3 separate regions of the Homo sapiens genome follow, and regions 2 and 3 are each linked to region 1. Evidence: fine-mapped expression QTL. A gene starts in region 1. Each other region holds a variant in brackets. All regions are shown on one strand. Distances are from middle to middle.

Region 1 (10,513 bases):
TTAAATATTGTACTAAAAAAGACATTATGACACCAAAAGAAAAAAAAAGATGAACAATCAAAAGAACTTCCATTTAATCAACTTAGTATATGAAAATCTTGCTACATATTTGTCATTACTTTTCTAATTTTGCCGTTAACTGGCACCAGTCTGAGGTCTGGTGTTGTAGAAGTCTGGTAGGAGCAAGAAGGGTCACCTGCCAACTCAAAGGTCAAAGGTTTCCCCAGCAGGCCTCTGAATGACCAGAAAGATGCTCCAGCTGATCAGCTTCCACTCTCAGTCCTTCACCCCGATTACCCTATAATGAAATCGAGAGTAAACAAAACAAAAAAATGGACTGAACCCTACAAATGTGACGCTTTGCTGCAGCCTATGGGAGTTGTTCCCAGCCTACTCACAGCTTGGGAAGGGGAGGGTAGCTGTGGTCACTGTAAGCATCCAGATGAGTGCAAGAGATGCAATAATCCATATCTGTATCAAGAACCATTTGCAGACTGACACAATATAAAGTGCAATGACTTATGTGTGTTTGTGTTTGTTGGTAAAACTGGGCCCTGAGATTCAAAGAACCACTGTGCTATGACAGGAGGTCCTTGACCTGGCATACAAAGCCCTTGCTATTTATGACCACGCTTATCCTTTCAGCTTTCTTTCTAGCAACCTAAGCTATTCTATTTCCTGCAATTGCATGCTTAAGCATGGCTTGCTCCCCTTTCCCAATCGTTAAACTTTAAGCATTCTTTTTACCCTTCTTCATTAAATTGCCAATTTACTGAGTATACATTATGTTCCAGGTGTGGCATTTTCTTTTTTACACTTTATGGTTCTCTCTGCTTCCTCCACCCAGCTAAGGGAGCAACCTTTATTGAGCCCATACCTGTGTTCTCAGCTCAGTACAGATAGCTCATCGTAGCACTTACTACATTATTTCCTCATCTGTATCATCTATTTGTCCAAGCTGCCCAGGAGCAGCCAGTCTTGCTCATTTTTTATCTTTAGCATCTGGCAAGGGGCCTGGCATACAGCAGGCTAGGAATAATTTTTTTTTTTTGGTAATTGAACTGTAATGACTTCTACAATCTGGATTATGAAACTGTCTAGAGGGAAAATTTGAGATGAATTCCTTTCTCCTCAGTTCTTCCCTTTTCACATAAACGAGCTCACTTAAATCTGGTACCTCTTTTTTAGTTTATTTCCAGTCCTGAGACTAAAACTGGCCTCCATGAGAAGAGACCCAGGATGTCTGCCCAACACAGAAGAGACCTAGCCTGAGAAACAGTGGGAGTGAAGGAATGAAAGCACTTCTCCAGGGGACCTCCTAAGGACCACCTCACCTGCCCCAGAACTCTACTGGACTGCCCCATGTGTCAGGGAGCTCGAAAACACCTGAGTCTGGAATGACTTGTGAAGAGTGACAGGGTTACTCTAGACCTAAATTCCTTGTTTCTAGTAAGAAAATAATCATTCATGTATTTAAAACATAACCTCCTCACCCCCACCCCCACATAAACAAAACAATCACATGACTACTTTGTAACGCCAATTTGGATACTACAGTTTTTTTGTTATTGTTGTTCTTTTTCAAAAAGATTGGAACCAGAAACAGCAAGCTTATTTCCAAGAAATCCTGCCTCTGAAAGGTCGACAGAAGGGCTGGCCACTTTCCATTGGTCACTCCAACCCCTGATGAGGGAAGGAAATGCCCTCTTGGCCTTCTGTCAAAGGGCAGTACCTGAGGACACCGCCAACTCCCAGACTCCTCACTGATCATAAGGAAGCGAGCCAACTGAGCTGTGTCAACGTGTAACATGCAATTCCCCTTTCTGGGGACCTTCAGCATATCAAGAGAATATTAAAAACCCACAATTACAATAGAGGCCCAAAGGTAGCCTTGGACAGGATGAGGAAACCAAATACAAACTTCCTACTCATGACATCCTTAAGTAGCTCAACCGAGAACCTCAGGCACCAAGCAAACAAATGGTTGGGAAACGCTCATTGGCTGGTTAATGGGCATACATGCTTCCTTAACTGTGTCTCTGCTCTCTTCTGTTTTTATGCATCCATACTCATTTTTTATGATGACTGAAGAATGAGATAGCTGACACTAAAACAACAGTACCACCTTACCGATTGGTCAGCAAATCCGTGAGAAAGAACACTCTCTTTTTGCCCTATACTCTTGCATTGAGAGAAAAACAAATTGGAAATTACTAGCTTGTCAGAAAAAGCGCAACAAAAGGCAAAATACAGAATAAAGACCAAACTCATCTCCGACTCCTAATTACTGAAGGACAGTGACACCGAGTTCACTACTCATTCCCCACTCTCTGTATATAAAGTTTCCTTCACTTTATTGCTCTACTAATCAGTTTTTACCCCAGCCAATGATATTCTTAAATTATAGATATGGTCAACATTTAGTGGGCCTATCTGTTGAAGAAAATATGAAAAATGTGTAGTTAGTGATGGCTACTAATGAATATGTATAGACTGCCCAAAGTGATAATTTTGCCAAGTCTGTTGATTATCAGAAATGATTTTTTTCTTTAATCAACAATATGCTATCTAATAAATTGATTCTATTTACTTTCCTCATCTCCAGGGCAGTGATCTCTCTCACCTCCTTTAAATAGTCATGAGCCCCACAACTACCTTTCAGCCCAGGACAGAGGGGCACACACGACAGTGGTCTATGAGACTATAATACATATTTTTACTCTACCTTTTCTACATTTAGATGCGCAAATACCATTGTGTTCAGATTGCCTCTAGTATTCAGTACGGTAACATGCTGTTCAGGTTTGTAGCCTAGGAGCACTAGCCTCTACCTGATAGTCTAGGTGTGTAGTAGGCTGTAGCATCCAGGTTTGTGTAAGCACACTCTACAATATTCACACAAGGAAGAAGTCGCCTAATGACTCATTTCTCAGTAGGCGACTGTCCTGAAGAGATGCATGACTCTAATTAAATGCTACCTTCTCAATGAAATCGATTCTGATCACCCTATTTAAATTCACAACTGGAGACCCATTCCACTTCCCAAGCCTTATCCTATTTTTCTATACCAGGCATCGAATTACGAATATATAAAAATTATTTGTATATATAAATTATATATACATCAATTATGCATACGTATATCCACACACACATATTTACTGCGTCTGCTCTGCTAGAATTAAGCTCCAGAGGGAAGATTTTGTGGACTGATATATCTCACACATCTAGAAAAGCGCCAGGGACAGGGCAGACGCTAGGACTCCACGAATTAATGATTCCATCAGAATTTGAAATCAAACTGTAAAGCAATCCCTTCATTTCCCAGAGCTTTGCTGCTCAAACATACACACCCCTTCCCCTTGAACGCCCAACAGGCTGGGCGCTGCCAAACAGAACTCCTGGAAGGCGGCGCCCAAAAGCAGACCCTAGGAGTGGGCGGGCACCAACTCCCCGCCCCAGCACGCACCTCCCTCCAACTTTAGCGCCCGGGATTCCCAGGAATTCGTCTCTTCTGGGCTAAGCCCCGCCACCGCGGCCGAGCAGGGCGGGCCCGGACCTTCGACCCACGCTCCGGGCAGATGCCGGTGGCCTTGGAGGACCCGCCCTCCGGCCTGCCGGGCCTTTCCTCGGGGAGGCTGTAGCTGAGATCCCCGCCCCGCCGTCCAACCCCGCGAGACGAGCCCCCTCTCCTCTCCCGCCCGGGCCTCACCTCTCCTGCAGGAAACGAGTGCAGGCGCCGGGCCGTGGTACTGGGGAAGGGCGCCGGCGGCAGCGGCGACGCCCGGTGAGCACCTCCACGCGCTGCTGCGCCCGGCCGGGGGTGCGGCATACCCGAGGCGCGAGCGCTCCCAGTCCCCGAGCTGCCGGCGCGGGGCTGCGGCGGCCAAGCGCGGGGAGGGCACTAGCAGGAGGAGGAGCAGCGGTGAGGCACGTGACACGCCGCCGCGGGCCGCCGGGGCGCGAGGGCGCAGCGCCCCCAGACCGTCGGAGAGCGCAGAGAGGCAGCGGCGTGCTGAGGTTTCGCTGCCGCCCGGTCTTCCGCTGAGGCCCACGGGCAAGAAGAGAAGCCGCTGGCGGCCGGGCAGGCGCTGGGTCCTCTGGCCGCCGACCGAGCCGCAGTCCATCCCCGAGCAGTTCACTGGCCCGGGCGCGCGCTCATGCCTCTCGCTTTTGGCGCCGGCCACGCGCGGTCCAGGCCCAGAGTCCGACAGCGGGAGCGAGCGTGGGCCACAGCGCAGGACCGCCCTTTCCTGCCGGGCGCGCGGGCGGGGCTCGGGACGCGCGCCGGGGGTGGGGTGGGGCGGGGCGGCAGGAGCCCGCCGTGGCGCTCCGAGATGCGGGGACCGTGCGAGCCCCCACCCCATTCGCTAGGCGACGGCGGCGACCGGGAGGAGCCTGCGGGCACTCCGGAACTGGAAGGAGCTTGTTGCTGTCACGATTTGCATTTTCACTGCACTGCTGTCCTTAAAAAGGAATTACCCCGGTGCCCTTCAGAGTCCTGTGAAAAGTCTCAGACCGACAGGCTGCCCTAGATTTCACTGATTATCCTAAGTCCCCAAACATGTGGTTCTGGGGAGCATTTTAAGGAATTATTAGCAGGGCCCAGGGAAAGGCCCTCACATAATACATTCAAAACTAAATTTTCAGAGTTTTTGTTTCCAGATTAGAGCACCAAAAACATGGGAAGGTAGCAATCTGGGAACTTAAAACGTGGGGCATGAATGTTAAAATGAGACCTGTCGGGTATATTTGAAACTGGTAATGTTTAGTTTCGTGGACTTTTTGAAGGCCTGTTACACCATTCACAGATAACTGGTCCCTTATGTGAATTTGGAAGATGTTAGTTGAATAAATAAATGAAATGCATAAGGCACCAAGCTAGGAGATTTTATTAAAAATAAAAAACCGCAAAACAAATTGTTCTTATCCTCCAGAAGCTGTTTTCCTATACAGCCATATGTGTACACATACGTGATGGAAGAATGTGTTATGAGCCATGAGAGATGTACAAAGTGCTGGGAAGAGAGGAGCGTGCATATGGATGTGCAAGATAAGTGTCTATCAAAATTTGAAGAACTGAAAAACAGGATTCAAGTCATAGGTTGGTGCAAAAGTAGTTGCGGCTTTTGCCATTGCAAGTAATGGCAAAAACCGCAATTACTTTTGCACCAACCTAAGACACTTTTGTAAAAGGAGTATACATTTATAAAATTGGTAGAAAAAGCAGTTTAGCAATGAGTATCAACAAAAATTTGTAAACTTTTCTCAAGTCACCTAACTAAAAATGGGGATAATGGGAATAATCCAAAATATTAAATATCTACTAGGTTTGACTATACAAACTTGTCATTTTTATGGGTCAAAATGCTTAATATTGGTAATTTCACATATGCACAAAAGATAGTCATTGTATCATAATTTGTGATTGTGAAAAAATGGGAAAATAGTGCACAACATTAGAGGAACGATTAAACTGTGGCACAAACTTTAATGTTAGTCCTTTGTAATTTTTAAAAATTGAGGTATAATTTGCATACAGTAAATTCCACAGACTTAGGTGACATTTAGCAGTTGATAAATGTCATTTAGCAACTTGATGACATTTAGCAGTTGTATATACCACCCAGTCAAGATCTAGAACATTTTCATTGCTCCAGAAAGTTATTTTGTGCCAGTTTTCCAGACAATCCACCACCACCCCAAGGCAACTATTTTCTCTTTTTTTTTTTGAGACGGAGTCTTGCTCTGTCACCCAGGCTGGAGTGCAGTGGTGCAGTCTCAGCTCACTGTGTCCTCTGCCTCCCGGGTTCAAGCAATTCTCCTGCCTCAGCCTCCTGAGTAGCTGGGATTACAGGTGTCTGCCACCACGCCTGGCTAATTTTTGTATTTTTAGTAGAGACGGGGTTTCACCATATTGGCCAAGCTGGTCTCGAACTCCTCACCTTGTGATCTGCCCGCCTCGGCCTCCCAACGTGCTAGGATTACAGGCGTGAGCCACCGCGCCCGGCCAACTATTTTCAAATTTCAATGACCATAGATTAGTTTTGTCTTTTTTTGAACTTCATGTAAATGGAGACCTACAATATGCATTGCCTTGTGTCTTTCTTCTGCTTTGCGTCTGACTTCAATATCAATGAGATTCATCCATGCTGTTGTATCAGTAATTAGTTGCTTTTAATTGTTGAATAGTATTCCATTGTATGACCATACCACAAGCGGTCATCCATTCTATTAATGGCCATTTGCTTTGCTTATAGTTTTTGGCTATTATGCATAGGGCGTTATGAACATTCTTGTATAAGACCTTGTGTGGACATAATTTTTATCCCTGTTGGGGAAAGTATCTGGGTCAAATTGCTGAATCATATGGTAGCTTAACTTTAGACACTGCTGAATTGTTTTTCCAAAGCGACTGCACCCTTTCACACTCTTAGCAATAGATGAGCGTTTCGGTTGTTCCACATCCTTGCCAAATTTTGATATTTTCAGTCCTCATAAAATGGTACCTTATTGTGATTTTTAACATAACATTTCCCTGATGCCTAATGATGTTGACTAACTTTTCATGTATTACTATTACCAGCCATATTGAATACAATAACATATGTAAAGCACTTAGCACAGTGCCTGGCCTATGATAGGAGTATAATGAATGTCAGTTCTAACTACAGGTTGGATAGCATCCACTTTTCCTTGGATGTGACACCTGTTGTTTTATTTTCCAAAGCATTCCCTTTCTTTTGGTCTCAGCACCCTAGTTTTCCATGGGCAGTGGCTCTTCTCTGCTCTCAGTCCATGCGGTTTGGAGAGACTGATCGCTCTGCAGACCACAGGCATGGGCATGTCACCCAATCAGAGTTAATGAGCAGCCGGGCGCGGTGGCTCACGCCTGTAATCCCAGCACTTTGGGAGGCCAAGGAGGGCGGATCACTTGAGGTCGGGAGTTGGAGACCAGTCTAGAGAAACCCCGTCTCTACTAAAAATACAAAATTAGCTGGGTGTGGTGGCACATGCCTGTAATCCCCGCTACTTGGGAGGCTGAGACAGGAGGACTGCTTGAACCCAGGAGGTGGAGGTTGCGGTGAGCTGAGATTGCACCATTGCACTCCAGCCTGGGCAACAAGAGTGAAATTCCATCTAAAAAAAAAAAGCTTCAATTCTAGGATTCTTTTTTTGTTTGTTTATTTGAGATGGAGTCTCACTCTGTTGCCCAGGCTGGAGTGTGGTGGCTCAATCTTGGCTCATTGCAACCTCCACCTCCTGGGTTCAAGCGATTCTCCTGTCTCAGCCTCCCACGTAACTGGGATTACAAGCAAGCACCACCATGCCCAGCTAATTTTTGTATTTTTTAGTAGAGACGGGGTTTCACCATGTTGGCCAGGCTAGTCTCAAACTCCTGACCTCAAGTGACCTGCCTGCCTCAGCCTCCCAAATTGCTGGGATTACACGTGTGAGCCACCACGCCTGGCCCAATTCTAGGGTTCTTAATAGGAACTATTGGGAAGAGGTCGTCTTATTTTATTGTGATGTCTAGGTATAGGATGATTTGAACCATGAGCTCCTGGGGCTACCATGTGGCCTAAGACTAAAGCCCTTATGAAGAAAAGAAGACTGAGAAATGAAGAGACGGGTCCTTTTGAGCGTCTGATTCTAGCTTAGGCTGAAATTGGCATTTTATTTATGTAATCCAATAAGTTGCTTTTACTTAAACCAGCTGGGATAGGGCTTCTGATTCCTATCCCGGATACATTAGTGTACATTAGGATAATCTAGACATGTTAGACTTCTGTCTATGTATAGAGAGACTAGATACAGGAATCTAATGGCCAATGAAGAAGAAGAAGTATCAACTAATTAATGGATCAGGCAGGAGCCAGACAACCCCCATGTGAACCATGACAAAGTTGGACTTTATGACAAAGTTGGATTGGTGAATATACTTGGATCTGGGGCCAAAGTGGGGCCATCTTACTCTCTCTCTGTATCTAGACTTAGGGACCTCCCATGAGTAAAGCTGGATTCACAGAGCAGACTCTGACTTAGCCACCATCTGTGAGAAGTTTAGGTGGCCTTATATATTCTAGGTGTCATCAGGAGAAAAGAGATGGAAGATGGCCAGAGCTATCCCTGAAAGATCTACTGGGTCTGTTTTAGCAGGTAGTAACAGAAAGGTCAAGGGCTCATTGTCCCCGGTGCAAGCAGGTCAAAGAGAGAACAAAGGAGTTGGAACATTCCTGGATGTGACCTTTAGCATACTGATACTCTTACTAGTAAACACTGATGGGGGAATGTCAACTTCCACTAATCAAACTACTATTCTCCGTAATTGAAGAGTGTTAAAGGGTGAAGAAAGGATTCTCCTTCTGGGTAAAATGGAATAAGCACACTCCACCCTGTCTTTCCACCTGAATGCAGGCATAAAAGCTGGACAGAATGCATAGAGCCACTATTTGAGGACTCTGAAAAGTAAATAATAGCAGGCACATCAGTGAAGAAGACAAAAATCAAAGTACCACTGAACTGATGTTTAGTTTAGTATTTTTTCCAATGTATGAGCTCCCCTAGCTTGAACTGTCAACCCATAGTTCTATTACTAGCAAAAATATCCTTCAGTAATGAAGTGATGAAATAAAGACATCCTCAGATGAAGGAAAACTAAGAGGAGTTGTTTTTAGTAAGCTTGCACTAAAAGAATTGCTAAAGGAAATTCACCATATAGTAGGGAAATGATACCAAAAGGAAACTTGGAGCATTAGGAATAAAGGAAGAGCAACAGAAATGGCAAATACCAAGATAAGTATAATATTCTTCTCCTCTTTAGTTCTTTAAAATATGTTAAATGATAGAAAGCAAAAATTCAAACAATGGTGAAGTTTTTAATGTTTATAGATGTGGTATATAATAACTACAAAATAAAAGGGCAAGGATAAAGAGACCTATATGGTAGTGAAGTTTTCATATTGCACTTACAGTGGTAAAATACTGATTCTAAGTAGAGTTAGAAAAAGTTAAATATGTCTACTGTAATCCCTAGAGCAACCCATAAAGATACTGTACAAAGAGATATAGGTTGGGCACAGAGGCTCATGCCTGTAATCCCAATACTTTGGGAGGCTGAGGTGGGAGGATGGCTTGAGGTCAGGAATTCAAGACTAGCCTAGGAAACATAGTGAGACCCCACCTCTACAAAAAAAAAAAAAAAAAAAAAAAAAAGAAAGCCAGACATGGTGGTGAATGCTTATAGTCCTAGCTACTCAGGGGGCTGAGGTGGGAGAATCACTTGAGCCCAAGAGTTTGAGGCTGCAGTGAGCTATGATCAAGTCAAAACACATAATAGATAAAATGTAATATTAAAAAATGTTCAAGTAACCCAAAAGGAGATAGGAAAGGAGAAATAGAAGAACAAAAAACAGAGATAAAAACTAAAAGCAAACAATAAAATATTAGGCATCAATCTAAACATATCAATAATTACATTAAGTGTAAATGGTCTAAATCAGTGGTTGAGGAATGTTTTTAAAAAGCCATATAGTAAATATTCGGCTTTGTGAACCATAAGCAATCTCTTTTACATATTGTTCTGTTCAAAAACAGGTGGTGGGTTGGATTTGGCCCATGGGCCATAGTTGGCCAACCTTTGGTCTCAACATGCCAATTAAAACAGAGAGAATGTCAGAATGGATTAAAAAAAGAAGAAAGCACAGCCTAGTTATATACTGCCTACAAGACACTCACATCAGTTATAATAATATACGTAGGTCAAAAGTCAAGGATGAGGAAACGAGGATGCTCCTCAGGAGGTGAAAGTCTTGATAAAAGTTTTTTCTAATGTGTACTAAGATGGGAAATTGAGAGAAATAGAAGGGATTCTCCCTGATCCTTTCTCTTCCCTTGTATGAAAGTCAGACTCCTGATAACATCTGCATTTAAGAACATAGCCCTGAAACTGGAAGTAAAGAATGCCTCTGAGTTTTATCAGTAACCTTCACCAAACCTGAGCTCTTTATGCCACAATAAAGTCTATTAGGCACTCATTCTGAGCCTACTTACTCTTATTTTACACATAGTTAACTATGTTAGCCACTCCGCCAGTGTCATGAGATGAGAAAAAAGATAGAAGGGAGGAAAAATCAGAAACTAATGTGTAAAGTAGAGTAAGAAAGGCGTGTGACAATACAATTGCCACTGGACCATATAATGGTAACCAAGAGGACCTAAGGAAGGTCAAGATATAACTAACTTCTCCCGTTTAAGCATTTCATTTAGTACAAATCTTACTTAAAGGAGAACTTTCTTTTCAATCTGTGGGTTCCATTTTTCTTTTAGAGAATGTTTTCTTTATATATATATTTACATATAATATATAATATTATATTATATATATTTACATATAATATATATTATATTATATATATATTTACATATAATATATAATATTATTATATTACATATATATAAATATATTTTAATAGAGTTGGGGGTCTTTCTATGTTGCCCTGACTTGTCTTGA
Region 2 (10,513 bases), 27 kb before region 1:
GATTTAAGAAACAGAAGTTCTTAGGTGTAAGCCACTGCTCATTTCACATTAACTGCAGTTGACAGCATCCACGGGATACAAATGTCAACAAAATACATGTAAGCGTTTTCATGAGGTCACTGTGTATCTTGATCCTCCAGGCCTCCATCTTTTCCTCACGAAGTCTGTTCAAATTTTCACAGAGATTCTTTTTTGTTTTGAGACAGAGTCTCACACTATTGCCTGGGCTGGAGTGCAACGGCATAATCTCTGCTCACTGCAACCTCTGCCTCCCGGGTTCAAGTGATTCTCCTGCCTCAGCCTCCCGAGTAGCTGGGATTACAGGCACCTGCCACCATGCCTGGCTTATTTTTTTGTATTTTTTAGTAGAGACGGGGTTTCACTATGTTGGCCAGGCTGGTCTTGAACTCCTGACCCTGTGATCCACCCACCTCAGCCTCCCAAAGAGTTGGGATTACAGGCATGAGCCACTGCGCCCGGCCTCACAGAGATTCTTGAGGTTAGAGAGAGACACTCTCTATTACAGCGCCCCTCAGAAGGCTGTGAGGTTCATGCACTCCATAAAATACTACACAAATGTAAAAGACAAATAGTAGCAAAATACTTCTGTGTTAGGAAAAGACACTGACTTTCATGCTGTAGGGGACAAGATGCTATGAAGCAACTGTGTCTTTTCCACTGGGGGAATGAACACTGTGAAGCCTGGAGGTGGCGGAGCAAGAAGTATTTTTAAAACCTTTGTTGTTAAGACGTTAACTGCAGAAATGCCACACTAAGCTGAAACCGGGAGTGCCTCTTCCTGGCTTTAACATTAAGCTGACCTGAACCTTCAGAATCATGGACAACCAATCAGAGTTTACCGAAACATAGAGTATGTGCAAAACAAAAAACAAACAAACAAACAAACAAAAAAATTAGTTTAAACTGAAAGGGCAAGTTGGGACCTTATAAAATGCCTACATGTTTCAACTACTCATTGCGGAAGGTGTTGCCTAAAAATACTTATCTGCAGATTTGTGATATATAAAAGAAGACCAAAATCTCACTGATCTCTATTTAAGGATGCTGATGCTTACACCTTGGTGGCTGACAGTGGCCACCCTCTGCAGTGTCCCAAAGGCCACCCTCCTTGGGTCCTTGGCAAGAACCTCCTACAGAAACTGCCGAGTTAAGGTGGAGACAAAATGGGCAGCGGAACAACTGGAGGAGATCTGCTGTGGGATGCCAGAGAGAAAGCTGTTTCTAGAAAATGCCTTTAAGACAATCTTCTTAGTTTTAAAGAAATCAGCCAGGCGCGGTGGCTCACGCCTGTAATCCTAGCACTTTGGGAGGCCGAGGTGGGTAGATCACCTGAGGTCAGGAGTTAGAGACCAGCCTGGCCAACATGGTGAAACCCCGTCTTTACTAAAAATACAAAATAATTAGCTGGGCGTGGTGGCGGGCACTTGTAATCCCAGTTACTCAGGAGGCTGAGGCAGGAGAATCGCTTGAATCCAGGAGGCAGAGGTTGTAGTGAGCCGAGATGGCGCCATTGTACGCCAGCCTGGGCGACAGAGCGAGACTCCGTCTCAAAAAAAAAAAAAAAAGAAAAAGAAATCATGGCTATGAGTGGTGGCTCACGCCTCTAATCTCAGCACTTTGGGAGGCTGAGGTGGGCGGATTACTTGAGGTCAGGAGTTCATGACCAGCCTGGCCAACATGGTGAAACTCCGTCTCTACAAAAAATACAAAAATTAGCCGGACGTGGTGGCAGGCGCCTGTAATCCCAGCTACTTGGGAGACTGAGGCAGAATTGCCTGAACCCGAGAGGCAGAGGTTGCAGTGAGCCGAGATCACAACACTGCACTCCAGCCTGGGCGACAAGAGCAAAACTCCATCTCAAAAAAAAAAAAAAAAAAAGGAAAAGAAAAAGAAATAAAAAACTCAAGGCAAAGAAAAGGTTTTTAGTTTGTTCCCCTACCACTGATGTGAAATGGGGACCTAGGGGAGATGTGGAAGGATGACTAAAATCTAACACATTGCCCACCATTTTTGAACTTGAAGGTTGAGTTTGCAAATCATTTACCGCCTTTGCCTACCTCATCTGCTAGTTGCCTTCTGGAAATTTTGCAGTTCCCCCTCAAGTCTAGTTATTTGATTCTAACTTTGGTACAAGATTTCTGGTTGGAGAAAATGAGATGTAACTGAAATTTCCAGGCTACCATTCATTCATTCACTTTAGATACAGGGTCTTGCTTTGTGGTCCAGGTTAGTCTCGAACTCCTGGCCTCAAGTGATCCTCCTGCCTTGGCCTCCCAAAGAGCTGGGATTACAGATGTGAGCCACCGTGCCCAGACCTGTATTTCATTTACCCCCTTTTCTGAGATGTTCCTTTCCTCTCCTCCTGAGCAGGTATTAATTACACTGAAGATCAACCCACACAGGCTGACTCAAGAAGAGCTCAATTTTTTGGAGGTGGGGAATTTGCTCAACAGGCCCTCAGGGAAGGTGAAGTGTGCATCCCTCTGAGGACCCTTCTGCTTCCTGTGACCCCAGCTGCTTGCTTTAGATATTTCCTTCCCAAGATTTTTCAGGGTGGAGCTCACTAATCATTAAGCTGTAAGGGGATGTACTGGGTGTTTCCTGCAGACACACAGGCTCTCTGTGCTTGAAGAAGTAGGTCTAGGAGGATTATGCCCTCCAGAGAAGAAGCAAAGGTAAGAGGTGCAGAGGGGAGTTCTCACAATGGCATTTTTTTGGTCCTTCCTGAACCTTGGTTACATAAGCCAAAAAAGGATATTCTTTTTTCTGCTCAAGCTAGCCTGATTTGGATTTCCATGAATCCTTATAGCTATTTTTATTTTATTTTGAGACAGGGTCTGGCTCTGTCACCCAGGCTGGAGTGCAGTGGCACAACCACAGCTCACTGCAGCCTCTACCTCCTGGGCTCAAGCCATCCTCCCATCTCAGCCTCCTGAGTAGCTAGGACTACAGGTGTGTGCCACCACATCCGGCTAATTTTTCTATTTTCTGTAGAGACAGGGTTTCACCATGTTAGCCAGGCTGGTCTCGAACTCCAGGACTCAAGTGACCCACCCGCCTTGGCCTCTCACAGTACTGGGATTACAGACAAGACCAACCGTGCCCGGCCAGATATTTTTTAAAATTGTGTATTTCTCAGCCAGGTGCAGTGGCTCATGCCTGTAGTACCAGCACTTGGGAGGCTGAGGCAGGAGGATGGCTTAAGCCTAGAAGTTTGAGACCAGCCTGGGCAACATAGTGAGACACCATCTCTGCAAAGAATAGAAAAAAAATTAGCTGGGTGTGGTGGCGCATGCCCGTGGTCCCAGCTACTTGGGTCCCAGGCTGAGGTGGGAGGATCGCTTGAGCCTGGGAGGTCGAGGCTGCCATGAGCAGTGACTGCGCCAATGCACTCCATCCAGCCTAGGCAATAGTAGTATCTTGTCTCAAAAGAAAAAAAAAAAAGAAAATTGTCTATTTCTAAAAACCTGTATTTAAACCTCATCATTTCCCCTCAAACAAGTAGCTTGTATAAAATTACTCATAACATGAACATGCTAAAGAAATTCTTTTGAATGATGAAAAGTTACTTTGTACATTATATTAAAATTTATTTTCTATGTATACCCAAATTTTCAAGTATTAGATTTACTTAGAAATTCACCAGTGTTATCATTATACAATTGGCTGGAATTAACAGTTGCAATACAGTTATTCTAGCTTTTCATATTCAATTTGAATGATCAGAAAAGTATATTAGTCACACAGAATTAAATATTTTAGATAGTAAGAATCTTACACTTTATTAGATAATAAAACATAATTGATATTTGCTTAAGTAACAAAAAAGTTAAGAAATTGGGTTATAAGCAAAGGAACATAAGTGTAAAATGTGTAGAAAGATAAATATTTTCCAAATAAAATTCTAATAAAAGGCTAAACATTCTCAAATATTTTACATACATGAAGAATAAATTATTTCTGGTTAACATGTTTTTGCCTTAGTGCCAAAAAAGCCAGAACAAATTTGATAAGCTCACATTAAAATCAAAGTTTTCTAGATATGAATTCTATATACCATCTCTATATTTGTTTAGAATTTTGCAAAATTCTTAGAAGATTGCATGTTAGGGTGGGGGAAGATAAATGCTTGCCAATACTGACATGGTTAATTAACAGACAGGCTTGAAAGGAGAAGGCTAGAAGAGGGAAGATTATGTCACTAAGCATAGCTACAAAAGGAAAAGCCACATGGAAGCAGAGACAAAGGCAATCCCGACACACAGAGGCATGTTTGTTGCGGCTCAGGGTTTCTGTTTTTCAAGTGTTCAGAGACGAATTCCAGCAAGACTTCTGGTTTGAGTCAAGCCTTTCAACCGAGGT[G/A]CTTGGCATACTTAACGGAAAAAGCGAGTACATTCAGATTTAGTTTTGCTAGATATTAAACTAGAAAACTGGATGACAGTAAAACCAATACAGAAACAAAAAGTCATGTTTCCAGTAAAGAACCGTACACACAAGCAGGTTTTGCTTATTAATGTAGCAGGAGAGCATGGAAATCGGAGTTCAGACTCTTTAGAAAAGACAAAAGGCAGGGGAGGGGAGAGAAGAAAAGGAGGAATGCAGAGAAGCCCTCCAAGAATGATGAGTGATTCGTGCAGGAGAGGGAAATACAGACGTTCCGTCCATGTGAGATTCTGCTTCAGGTATTGGACATCGTTCCCTCCACCTGCACCTAGAGGATATGTGTTCAGGATCTCGCTATGGTTAGTTACCCATGTGCTAGACATAGGTTGCTAGCTAGAAGTTTTGCCAGCCATCTTCCCCCCTCCTAGTGCTAATGCCTAATTTCCTAAAGTAATCTGAATCCTTATAAGCCAGGGTAGCTCAGGAGGTTCTATTTACTTATTTATTTATTTTGAGACAGAGTCTCACTGTGTCGCCCAGGCAGATCTCGTCTGGGCCCGAGTCTCGTTGCAGTGGTGTAATCTCTGCTCACTGCAACCTCTGCCTCCCAGGTTCATGCAATTTTCCTGTCTCAGCCTCCCGAGTAGCTAGGATTACAGGGGTGTGCCACCACGCCTGGCTAATTTTTCTATTTTTAGTAGCGAGAGCATTTCGTCATGTTGGCCAGTCTGGTCTCCAACTCCTGACCTCAGGTGATCTGCCTGCCTTGGCCTCCCAAAGTGCTGGGATTATAGGCATGAGCCACCGCACCCAGCATCAGTAAGTTTTAATATTACGTCTAGTCGGCTCACGGGTGCTTGAGCCAGAAGTGGGAAGGGTACACTTGTATTTTGGGCTCAAATGGTTTTCAAATAAAATACATCTGACCAAATAAAGTGAACACAGTCCTGAGCCCTCCTCTCTCCAGATATGCATGCAATCCACACCATCAAAAGAAGAGTTCACTGTTCCCAAGGCCAAGAAGAGGCTATGCTGTACTGCAAAGAACTCTATAGCAAAATCGAACACCCAAATTAAGTGCCAGAATGATGCAGCCCGCTCTCACCAGGAAGAACGACATGTGAGAAAACTTATAGCAGATGCAAAAATGTCAACCCACCATGTTATTTAAAAAAAAATTTTATCAGGATACAAGGACACTTCACTGTTTTTAACCCACACAAGGTTAGGTAATGTTTACCTTGAAACATAATCGCATATGGCCCTTTATGCCACTCACCTAGGCCTTTAATAATGAGGGCAATTGCTAAGTGTGCTGTCTCTTCTGGGGACTTCTCTCTGAAAGGGGGATGATATATTGATAAAATATTTTATTAATCAGTTAAGAATTTTTGATCTACTTGAAAAAGATTAAATTATAATATTTCACTTTGAAACTGCTATTGCTCATGCAAAAGTACTTGATTTTCATACTATATGGAGCTCACAATCTTTGGACTACACAAACATTCTCTAAAAGGGCAATGACTTATATTTTCCAAAGTTTAGACATGACATCCAAAGGACAAAAGGTAACTATTTTTTTTACCAATGTGGTTGGAACAGTGACAACGAGCAATGTATTCACCAAACTGATCAAAAAATCTGCCTGTGGTTCCTTCACTGTATGTGTGTGCAGAGAAAGGCAGAAAAGCTTCTATCCATGTCATTGTCTCTCTTGCCCATGTGCCAGTAATTTGAATAAGATGAGAATGGGCCAGGCGCAGCGGCTCACGCCTGTAATCCCACTACTTTGGGAGACCAAGGCGGGTGAATCACGAGGTCAGGAGTTAGAGACCAGCCTGGCCAACATGGTGAAACCTCATCTCTACTAAAAATACAAAAATTAGCTGGGCGTGGTGGTGGGCACCTGTAATCCCAGCTACTCAGGAGACTGAGGCAGGAGAATCGCTTGAACCCAGGAGGCAGAGGTTGCAGTGAGCAGAGATCACGACAATGCACTCCAGCCCTGCGACAGTGCGAGACTCCGTCTCAAAAAAAAAAAAAAGGTGAGAATGTGCTTTTCCAGAATAACCCCAGTTGTATCTAGAATTTGTTTTCAATATAAAGGCAGGTATGAGAATGTTTTGAACAACAGAATTAATCCATCTAGATTAGAATGCTGTGTGGCATGACCATTCTCGAATTTTGAAAGCCTGAGCTGGTTGTGGGCAAGGGGATATTCATTAATGACATAAATTTCATTTATGAAATATGTATCCATCATCTAGGTATCTTATACATGGAGAGCTGACTGCATCCCTTGTATAAAAAGTAAATGAAGACCGGAAGGAAGCAGACTTTGTCCTGCAAACTGAAGCAAAGTTCCATGCTAAGAATCAGCAGGTTTTCTAGGTAGGTAATGCCACCAGTGGAGGATTATTACAGTTCTCAAATCATGAGGGAAAGAGATGGAGAAGAGGGAGGGAGGAGGGAAAATCTTGCATTCTAAGAGGTAAGAGTCCCCATTACAATTGCAATGCTTCTTTAGACAGCTGATTTTTCTGGCTGGAAGGCACATTAAAAATAACCCTAACAATAACTTACCAAGACAATGGAAATCAAAAGAAAAGAAGGTAGACGTGCAGCTGTCTTATTAACATGACAACCAACTACAGCTGAAACAATACTATGGTACAGGGACTAGCTCATGTTAAAGACTGGTTATTTAGGTAAAGAGGATCTGGTGCTCTTGGTTTAGCTTCAGTGATTTTCCAGCACTTATTAAAGCCATTGTGCCCTGAACATGGAGACCCCCAAATCCTCTATGTGCCAAAGATTAAGTTGTAGAGAATTACATCAATGTTTGCTGTTGGTGTGCACCACAGATGAGACCAAGCTTCCTGGTCCGGCTAAGTGGAATCTTCCATGCACTGTGCACCACTCAGCTAGAAAGTCAACTAAGCAGAAAGGAGATAAGGAATGGCTATGGAATACCTGACTTCTTTATCTTGGTTATGTGTCCACAATTTTCATAAAAATAAATAATACACATTAAGTCAAAATCTGGGCTCAAATGTGTAACAAGAAAACAAAAGGACAACAATCTGGTATTCCGGTTTTTTTTTTTTTTTTGAGACGGAGTCTCGCTCTGTTGCCCAGGCTGGAGTGCAGTGACGTGATCTCGGCTCACTACAAGCTCCGCCTCCCAGGTTCACACCTTAGCCTCCCGAGTAGCTGGGACTACAGGCGCCCGCCACCACGCCCGCCTAATGTTTTAATTTTTTAGTAGAGACGGGGTTTCACCGTGTTGGCCAGGCTGGTCTCGAACTCCTGACCTCAGGTAATCCACCTGCCTCAGCCTCCCAAAGTGCTGGAATTACAGGTGTGAGCCACCGCACCCAGCCAACAATCTGGTATTCTTAAGGCAAAACAGTAGAAATCACTTTAAATAGACACTTTATTAGATCCACAGGCGATAAAATCCCAGAGCTACTGTTAGGCACGTAAATATAGACCCTGTAAGAAAAAAACAATTGAGAGTACTATTAGTTCTATTAAGAGTTACTTGAGGGAACATCTTTTTTTAAGAAAACCTAAAAAAGAAAACCTAGAAACTTAGATTGCTCACTGATGTCCCATATTCCGTGAAACGCCTGCCTACTGAAAAAACAAATCCCACACCCTTTATTTTATTTTCTTATTTTAGAGACATGGTCTCATCTGGTACCCAGGAGGAGTGCACCATGCAATGGTATGATTACAGCTCACTGTGCCTCAAACTCCCGGGCTCAAGTGACCCTCCTGCCTCAGCCTCCCAAGAAGCTGAAGCTACAGGCAGATGACACCATGCCCGGCTAAATCTTTTTGTAGAGACTAGGTCTCGCTGTGTTGCCTAGGCTAAGAAAACTTTTCAATAAAAGTTTCGAATAGCAAAAATTCTGTGGTCACAAGGTCTATGTATATGCACTATAGAGACAGGAAGACACAATTTAATATAAAGAACAACATTTCACTGTTAAATAATGCTGTAACCTTAAAATATTTAATTAATCCAAGACGTTAAATCTGACTTGAAATAATGGTTAATTTGGGTGGGGGGTGGTACATGAATGTTCATTCTCTCTTTTGGATCAAAAATCGCGAAAGTAAAATAACTCCTTAAAAGGAGTTTAAGCAATTGAAGCAGAAAGATTACAACTGAAACACCTTCCATTTTATCCATAAAATATTTCCTGTCTTGAATCTCATTAAAATCCCTAATAACTATAGTTCAATTATAGTATCTTATCAAATTTCCAATTCTATCAATTATAACGTACACAATTACTTTATTTACTACTAAGAAAGAAAAAGTGCCAATTAAACTATGATACTTCATCTACTGGAAATTGTAAGATGCTTTCCAATTTCAGAGATGTTAAAATATTTCAGAAAGTGTTGGAATCAATGAAATGCAGTATCTGTCAACGACTTATTTTATAAATTTATTTTCTTTTCAGGTTGATTTAAATAGATACAAAATAGCTTACCTGCTAAATATTTAATATTATCAAGCTTGTGTGACTCAAGCATGGTTTTGAGGCCAGCAACCTCAGTTTCGATCTTCCTGTCTGTCTGGGTAAGGGCCCGATCTTGCTGGGCATGCTTTTAAAATGAAGAGAGTCACAGCGTTAGACCACAGCACGTCCCCTCTGCTCACCATCCTATAGCTCCTTCCCAACGGGGTGCAGTCACAGGGAAACCTGGGTAAGACTATGGAGGCCTGGGCTTTAGTCTCAGTTCTAAAACCCTAATTCTACGCTGCATTGGTCAGGACCCTTAACCTCTCTAGGCCTTAGTTTTCTTCTATTTGAAAAAATGAAAACAGAACAAAACGAAACAACCAAGCCAGTGGCCCTGCCTTTACCTGGACTGTTTAGAGAATCAAATGCGATAATCTATGTGAAAAAGCATTTGTAAGCTCTAGGTTGCTATACAAATGATGTGGTATTATGAGGCCAGTCTGTTCTCAAAGGCAACGGCTACGTCTCATCCTTCTAAATCCTCCTTAGTCAAAGATAGACAGTAAACTCAAAAATGTTTTCAAGAAATGGAGTCTTAGATAATGTGAAAGCGGCAGTGCTTGTCTTGAGCTATTTCTAGTCATATTTTTAAAAAACTTTCTTCTTTCATGTTCAAATATCAAGTGTTTCATTACTATGAGGCTTGGCTACCCACGGCCAATTTGTGTCCTTCCCCAAATACAATACAGTTAAACTGGACACATAATCAACCCTCAAAAAGGCAGTGGGTTTGGCCGACGCTATAGGGGGTTGTAGAACTGCATTAAAGCATAAAAACCATGGGAATCCTTCACTAAAACTCCTACAGCAACTAAATCTTTCCCTATGGCTACCAATTCAGGCAGAGAAAAAAAGAAATAAATGCCTGGATGCGTAAAAAAGTATTCCAGAGAAATATCCCAGGATTCTGGAATTCTCTCATGAAAGCCTCTTGGGGGTTTCAGAGGTCCCAGGTTCCATACAGTATGGAAAAGGAGAAATGTATGCTATAAATTAAAAATAGAATAAGACTTCTCCATTCCTCACTATTCTTCAATTACTGAGATTTAAACTTTCTTAATAAAACTTCCGTTAAGAAAAACAAACTCTCAAGTAGGGCATGGTGGTGTGAGCCTGTGGTCCCAGCTACTCTACAGGCTGAGGTGAAGGAGGGTGCAGTGAGCTGAGATTGAGCCACTGCACTCCAGCCTGGGTGACAGAGCGAGACCCCACCTCAAAAAAAAAAAAAAAAAAAAAGAAAGAAGAAAAGGAAACTTTCATTAAGAAAGTTTAAATCTTTCATAGGATAACTATCTTCCATTACGATAACCAAACACTTTGTGAAGTGCAAAAAATCCTGTGACACTCCACTTCTGCATATATACCCAAAAGAACTGAAAGCAGGGATCCCAACAGACATCTGTGCACCCATGCCCACAGCAGCACTATTCACAAAGGCCAACGGGTGGAAGCAACACAAGTGCCCTTGACAGACGAATAAAGAAAATGTGGCATATACATATAATGGAATACTAATCAGCCTTAAAAAGGAAGAAAGTCCTGTCATTTCAACAACATGGATGAAC
Region 3 (7,449 bases), 38 kb before region 1:
CATTCATAATTTCAATGAGATCAAGAACCTACCAGTTCCAGACATACTAGCGCTTTGGGAGACCAAGGCAGGCGGATTTCTTGAGTCCAGGAGTTCATAGACCAGCCTGGGGAACATGGCAACACTATCTACAAAAAAATACGAAAACTAGCTAGACATGGTAGTGCGTGCTTGTAGTCTCAGCTATATGAAGGGCTGAGGTAGGAGAATGGCTTGAGCATGAGGAGGCAGAGGTTGCAGTGAACTGAGATTGCACCACTGCACTCTGGGTGACAAGTGAGACCCTGTCTCAAAAACAAGGGTACTGAATCAAACAAGTATTTAAGGCCTAAACTCAGGGTGACTCTGAGACCCAAACAGTGGGCTCCATGTCAACATCAACCCCTTTATACGAAGATTCCCCAATAAAAATATAAATATTCACAATCACCCTGGGGTCTGCATGGAAGATTGATGTATAACACTTGAGAGCTTACGGATATGTCCATGGGTTACCTACGTTGTTTTAATACCTACTACAGTCTGTACCCTAGATACTCGAAGAAGAATGTTCTTTTACTAGGATACTGCATCTTAGTAAATTCACCTTAGTACCCTGGGGTGGTTGCCAGGGAGGGTACTAACAGAAGTTTGCTTGTTTGGTGGTTGGGCAAGTAATATTACTAGTAATTACTAGCAAAGGATTCCAGTTATTGCATGCAGACTACACATTTTATATGTAGGTATGGGGTTTTACTATTTATTTATTTATTTAGAGATGGAGTCTCACTCTGTTGCCCAGGCTGGAGTGCAGCGGAATGATCTCGTCTCAGGGCAACCTCCGCCTCCCAGGTTCAGGTTGTTCTCCTGCCTCAGTCTCCCGAGTAGCTGAGATTACAGGCACCTGCCACCATGCCCGACTAATTTTTTTGTATTTTTAGTAGAGACGGGGTTTAACCATCTTGGCCAGGTTGGTCTTGAACTCTTGACCTGTGATCCACCTGCCTCGGCCTCTCAAAGTGCTGGAATTACAGGCGTGAGCCACTGCACCTGGCCAGGGTTTTATTGTTTAGAAAATATTTTCATGTATTTGACCTCATTTGATCCTTACCACATGTGGTCAGCCAGGTAGGGTATCTATTCCCTGGAATCAGAATGCTTCGGTTTGACTCTGACGTCACCATTTATTAGCTATGTGTTCTTGGGCAAGTTACTTCAACTTTTTTATTACTATTTTTTTTTTTTTTTTTTTTTTTTTTTTGAGTCAGAGTCTCACTCTGTCACCCAGGCTGGAGTGCAGTGGCACAATTTCGGCTCACTGCAACCTCCACCTCCTGGATTCAGGTGATTCTCCTGCCTCAGCCTCCTGAGTAACTGGGATTATAAGTGCACGCCACTGTGCCTGGCTAATTTTAATATTTTTAGTAGAGACAGGATTTTGCCATGTTAGCCAGACTGGTCTTGAATTCCTGACTTCAGATGATCCACCTGCCTCGGCCTCCCAAAGTGCTGGGATTACAGGCATGAGCTACCACGCCAGGCCCACTTTTTTCTTTCTTTCTTTCTTTCTTTTTTTTTTTTAAATAAATAGAGATGGAGTTTCCCTATGTTGCCCAGGCTGGTCTCAAACTTCTGGGCTCAAGGGATCCTCCCAACTTCACCTCCCAAGATGTTGGGATTATAGGTGTGAGCCACCTCATCCAGTCTACTGAAACTTTCTATACCTCAGTATCTTCATCTGCAAAATAGAGATCACTGTAGTACTTACTTCATAGGGATGTGATGAAGATTAAATGAGATTGTGATTACTTTAAAACTATGCCTGGGCCGGGCGCGGTGGCTCACGCCTGTAATTCCAGCACTTTGGGAGGCTGAGGCGGGTGGATCACAAGGTCAGGAGTTCGAGACTAGGCTGGCCAACATGGTGAAACCGTGTCTGTACTAAAAATACAAAAAAAAAAAAAAAAAAAAAATTAGCCAGGCATCGTGGGAGGCACTTGTAATTCCAGCTCTTGGGAGGCTGGGGTAGGAGAATTGCTCGAACCCGGGAGGCGGACATTGCAGTGAGCTGAGATCAGCCACTGCATTCCAGTCTGGGTGACAGAGCAAGACTCTGTCTCGGAAAAACAAACAAACAAACAAAAAAACTATGTCTGGAGGCCAGGTGTAGTGGCTCATGCTTGTAATCCCAGCACTTTGAGAGGCCAAGGCAGGCAGATAGCTTGAGCTAAGGAGTTTGAGACCAGCCTGCGCAACATGGCGAAACTCCTTTTCCACCAAAAAATACAAAAAATTTGCCGGGTGTGGTGGTACATGCCTATAGTCCCAGCTACTTGGGAGGCTGAGGTGGGAGGATTGCTTGAGCCTGGGAGGTGGAGGCTGCAGTGACCTGAGATCTCTCCACTCTAGCCTGGGTGACAGAGCGAGACCCCAACCCCCACCAAAACAAAAAACAAACAAAAAACTACAGCTGGAATACAGTAAATAAATGCTCTATAAGCATTCCTATTATAATTATTGTTGTTGTTGTTTTCGAAACATAAGGACTAAGGTGCTCTGGACTGAATT[T/A]GTGTTCCCCCAAATTCCTGTGTTGAAACCCTGCTCCCTAGTGTGATGGTATGAGGAGGTGAGGAGGTCATAGGCATGGAGCCCTCATGATAGGATTAGTGCCCTTATAAGAAGAGACTCTAGGCCGGGCGCGGTGGCTCACGCCTGTAATCCCAGCACTTTGGGAGGCCGAGGCAGGCAGATCACAAGGTCAGGAGATCGAGACCATCCTGGCTAACACGGTGAAACCCCATCTCTACTAAAAATACAAAAAATTAGCCGGGCGTGATGGCGGGCGCCTGTAGTCCCAGCTACTCGGGAGGCTGAGGCAGGAGAATGGCGTGAACCCGGGAGGCGGAGCTTGCAGTGAGCCGAGATCGCGCCCCAGCACTCCAGCCTGGGCGACAGAGCAAGACTCCGTCTCAAAAAAAAAAAAAAGAAGAGACTCTAGAGAGCTTGTTTCCTCCGTCTCTCCACTCTGTGTGAGGACACAGCAAGAAAACAGCCATTTGTGAACCAGGAAGTGGGCTCTCACCAGACACCAGATCTGCCAGCCAGTACCATGATTTCAGACCTCCCAGCCTCCAGAATTGTGAGAGAGAAACGTTTGTTGTTGAAGCCGCCCAGTCTACGGTATTCTGTAATAGCAGTCCGGACTGACTAAGACTTAGGCTTGGCAAGGTCAAATGGTTTTCCCAAGAGTGCAACAAGTGGCAAGGTGGGGAGCTACGGCCAGGGCTCCTGACTCATAGTATTCTTACTGGTCAAATATCTGCCTGTAAAAACTGGTTTTTAGCAACCGTAACAAGATATCGTGCTGCTAAAACGAAATAATCATGGTTTTGTTAAGTCTCAGGAAAAAGGTAATAGGTACGGTTTTCTCCATCTTAAATGTTTTCCCATGGAGTTCTAAGCTTTGGAGATTTGCTACTGCTTGCCTACTAGCACTTGCTGGTGCTTACAACCAAGCAAAGGCATTCACATACATTTTTTCTTTCTTTCTTTTTTTTTTTTTTTTGAGATGGAGTTTCGCTCTTGTTGCCCAGGCTGGAATGCAATGGCGCAACCTTGGCTCACTGCAACCTCCACCTCCCAGGTTCAAGCAATTCTCCTGCCTTAGCCTCCCAAGTAACTGGGATTACAGGCATCTGCCACCATGCCCAGCTAATTTTTGTATTTTTAGTAGAGACGGGGTTTCACCATGTTGGCCAGGCTGGTCTCGAAGTCCTGACCTCAGGTGATCTGCCTGTCTCAGCCTCCCAAAGTGCTGGGATTACAGGCGTGAGTCACCGCGCCCAGCCCACATACATTTCTTTCTTTCTTTCTGTTTTTTTGTTTGTTTTGAGACAGGGTCCTGTTCTGTCATCCAGGCTGGAGTGCAGTGGCATGATCAGAGCTCACTGTAGCCTTGACCTCCTGGACTTGAGTGATCCTCCTGCCTGAGCCTCCTGCCTGCGTCATCACACCCAGCTAATTTTTTTTTTTTTTTTTTGAGAAGGAGTCTCGCTCCGTCCTCCAGGCTGGAGTGTAGTGGCGTGATCTCAGGTCACTGCAAGCTCCGTGTCCCGGGTTCACGCCATTCTCCTGCCTCAGCCTCCCACGTAGCTGGGACTACAGGCGCCTGCCACCATGCCTGGCTAATTTTTTGTATTTAATTTTTGTATTTTTTAGAGGTGGGGTTTCACCATGTTGTCCAGGCTCATTCACATAAATATTAATAGGGAAAGCTCAAAAAATTAATTCATGACTGCCTATAACCCCTGCCTCCCTGCCTTAAAAACCCTTACCTATATGCCTCAGATCTTAAGCATAAGCTGCCTGATTCTCCTTGCTTGGCACCCTACAAATAAACACCCTGCTTTCTACCACTACAAGCCTCGATACAGATATTTGACCTTACTACACAGGGCAAGTAGACCCCAGTTCGGCTCGATAACACTCCCTTCCCTTTAAAAGGGGCAGGAGTAGTTCAACAGCTTTTTTGTTTTCATAAGTATCCAACCTTGTGGTTAATTGCATACTGGTATCATAGCTGTATTTTCTGTTCCTAGGTTGGATGAAGGAATCGGATACATAAGTAATTTGCAGCATTCCACAAATTCAGTAGAGGACACAATGACTTCTAGGTTTACCACCCTATGAATAAGGCCGAGGGCCCTTACCAACCACGCATAAGCCACAGTCATCCCTTACCAACCACGAATTCTACCAAATATAAATTGATTTTAGTACTCTTTTCCCATAATCATGCAAATTTCAGACCAAGTATATATGATCTGAGTTATTCTTGTAGGTGATAGTTAGAAAAGATGGAACCAGGAAGCTGGAAAGAGGAGAGGGGTGGTGTACAGGAGTACATACTTTTGCCATGCACCCACCCTAAGGCAACAGAAGCAAAAGAAACAGGTGTTGGAATTCTACTCCTGCCCCTTTTAAAGGGAGGGGAGTGTTATTGAGCCAAACTAGGGTCTACTTGCCCAGTGTAGTAAGGTCAAATATCTATATTGAGGCTTGTAGTGGGAGAAAGGGGGGCGTTTATTTTATTTATTTATTTATGACAGATTTTTGCTCTGTCTCCCAGACTGGAGTGCAATGGCGTGATCTCTGCTCACTGCAACCTCTGCCTCCTAGGTTCAAGCGATTCTCCTTCCTCAGCCACCCAAGTAGCTGGGATTCCAGGCGCGTGCCACCACGCCAGGCTAATTTTTTGTATTTCTAGTAGAGATGGGGTTTCACCATGTTGGCCAGGCTGGTCTCAAACTCCTGACCTCAGGTGATCTGGGGGTGTTTATTTGTAGGGTGTCAAGCAAGGAGAATCAGGCAGCTCATGCTTAAGACCCGAGGCTTACAGGTAAGGGTTTTTAAAGGCGGGAAGGCAGAGGTTATAGGCAGTCATAAATTAATATATGGAGGCTACATGCTGGCTTCTCATATAAAGGAGGACATCTCGATGTGAGGACCCATAGGTCATAGGTGGATTTAAAGATTTATTGATTTGTAATTGGTTAAAAAAGAGCTTTGTTTAAAGATTTGAGGTCAGTAGAAAAGAATGGTAGCTCTGGCTCGAGGGTGTGACTTTTTGTAGCCTGCTCAGGAAGAAGAAATTTAGAACAAAGAACAGTGGTTACAGTTTAGCCATCAGTTCTCCCTTATTTGAGGTTTAAGTGCCAGTGGATCCATTCGGTGGGGATCTGGGTTTCTGAAAAACAACCGAGGGATATATGCTCACATGTTATCTTTAGTTTTTGTTGTTGTTTTGTTTTTGTTTTTGTTTTGAGACAGTCTCGCTCTGTCCCCCAGGCTGGAGTGCAATGGTGCGATCTCAGCTAACTGCAACCTCCGTCTTCCAGGTTCAAGCGATTCTCCTGCCTCAGCTTCCCGAGTAGCTGGGTTTACAGGTGCCTGCCACCATGCTTAGCTAATTTTTGTATTTTTAGTAGAGACAGGGTTTCACCATATTGATCAGGCTGGTCTCGAACTCCTGACCTCAGGTGATCCACCCACCTCAGCCTCCCAAAGTGGTGGGATTACAGGCATGCACCACCACACCTGGCCATTATCATTAGTTTTTATAGGGAACACAAATATCTCATGACTTTAACTTTTTTGCTATTGTTTCTTTAATTAATTTTTTGCTTATTGTTCATTTTTAGGGCTAGTTAGGTGCCTGGAATTTATTATTTATTTATTTATTTTGAGACGGAGTCTCGCCCTGTCACCCAGGCTGGAGTGCAGTGGCTCGATCTTGGCTCACTGCAACCTCCGCCTCCCAGGTTCAAGCAATTCTCCTGCCTCAGCCTCCCAAGTAGCTGGGACTACAGGCGCATGCCACCATGCCCGGATAATTTTTGTACTTTTAGTAGAGACGGGGTTTCACCATCTTGGTGAGGCTGGTCTCGAACTCCTGACCTCCGGTGATCCACTCACCTCAGCCTCCCAAAGTGCTGAGATTACAGGCATGAGCCAGCATGCCCGGCCTGGAATTTTTTTTCAGTAACTCAATACTTTAAAATTTTTTATTTTATGTGGGGTTTGGTAGGCCTCTAAAGGGTTCCTGCTCCTTCTTAGGTGTTGTACCTAGGTTATGCTACTCTTATTTAATTAAAACAATATGGCAAAGCCAACACTATACAAGGGGACTTCAAAAAGTTCATGCAAAATGCATATTATGAAAAAAAACTATGTATGGATTTTAAGATGTTTTTGCACCAACATAAACGCACACTAACTTGTAACATGTCTAAACAGAACCTAGTTTGAGGCACGAAGAAGGATACTACATCAGTCTGAAAACAGTCTGGGCATGCCGGGCGTGGTGGCTCATGCCTGTAATCCTAGCACTTCGGGAGGCTGAGGCGGGTGGATCACAAGGTCAGGAGTTTGAGACCAGCCTGGCCAACATGGTGAAACTCTGTCTCTACTAAAAATACAAAAATTAGCTGGGCGTGGTGGCACGTGCCTGTAATCCCAGCTACTTGGGAGGCTGAGGCAGAAGAACTGCTTGAACCTGGGAGGCAGAGGTTGCAGTGAGCCAAGATCGTACCACTGCACTCCAGCCTGGGCAACAGAGTGACACTCTGCCTCAAAAAGAAAAAAAAAATTAAAAAATTAGCCAGGCATGGTGGTGCGTGCCTGTAGTCCCGGCTACTCAGGAGGCTGATGTGGGAGGATCGCTTGAGCTCAGAAGGTCGAGAATGCAGTGAGCCAAAATCTCACCACTGCACTCCAGCCTGGGTGACAGAGAATAGACCGTGTCTCAAAAAAACCAAAAAACAAAAAACAGAGGCCAGGCACAGTAGCTCATTACTGTAAATCCTAGCACTTTAGGAGGCTGAGGCGGGAGGATTACTTGAGGCCAGGAGTTCAAGACCACCCTGGCCAACAAAGTGAGACCCTGTCTCAATTTATTTTAAATGAAAATAG

Evidence for each region. PIP is the estimated chance that this variant, and not a neighbour inherited with it, causes the effect.
Region 2: its variant is fine-mapped to the expression of MCUR1 in tibial nerve (GTEx, PIP 0.97).
Region 3: its variant is fine-mapped to the expression of MCUR1 in whole blood (INTERVAL, PIP 0.98).

Annotation. Positions count from the first base shown.
Region 1 is chr6:13,810,303-13,820,815 of GRCh38, forward strand. It overlaps MCUR1 (mitochondrial calcium uniporter regulator 1), which reads right to left and starts at 4,255. Exons shown (of 9, transcript NM_001031713.4): 1 at 3,713-4,255. The coding sequence starts at 4,127. LOC107986571 (a long non-coding RNA gene) reads left to right here and starts at 3,508. Exons shown (of 2, transcript XR_001743986.3): 1 at 3,508-3,787. RefSeq lists silencers at 3,443-4,112, 4,193-4,462 and an enhancer at 4,623-4,722.
Region 2 is chr6:13,782,963-13,793,475 of GRCh38, forward strand. It overlaps MCUR1 (mitochondrial calcium uniporter regulator 1), which reads right to left. Exons shown (of 9, transcript NM_001031713.4): 8 at 8,916-9,030; 9 at 3,595-7,902. The coding sequence ends at 7,847. Among named protein-coding and RNA genes, the nearest start is that of MCUR1, 26 kb to the right of the region's middle. RefSeq lists an enhancer at 4,690-5,522 and a silencer at 6,191-6,359. The variant G/A (reference allele first, on the strand shown) is at 4,384.
Region 3 is chr6:13,773,577-13,781,025 of GRCh38, forward strand. No RefSeq gene overlaps it. Among named protein-coding and RNA genes, the nearest start is that of MCUR1, 37 kb to the right of the region's middle. The variant T/A (reference allele first, on the strand shown) is at 2,548.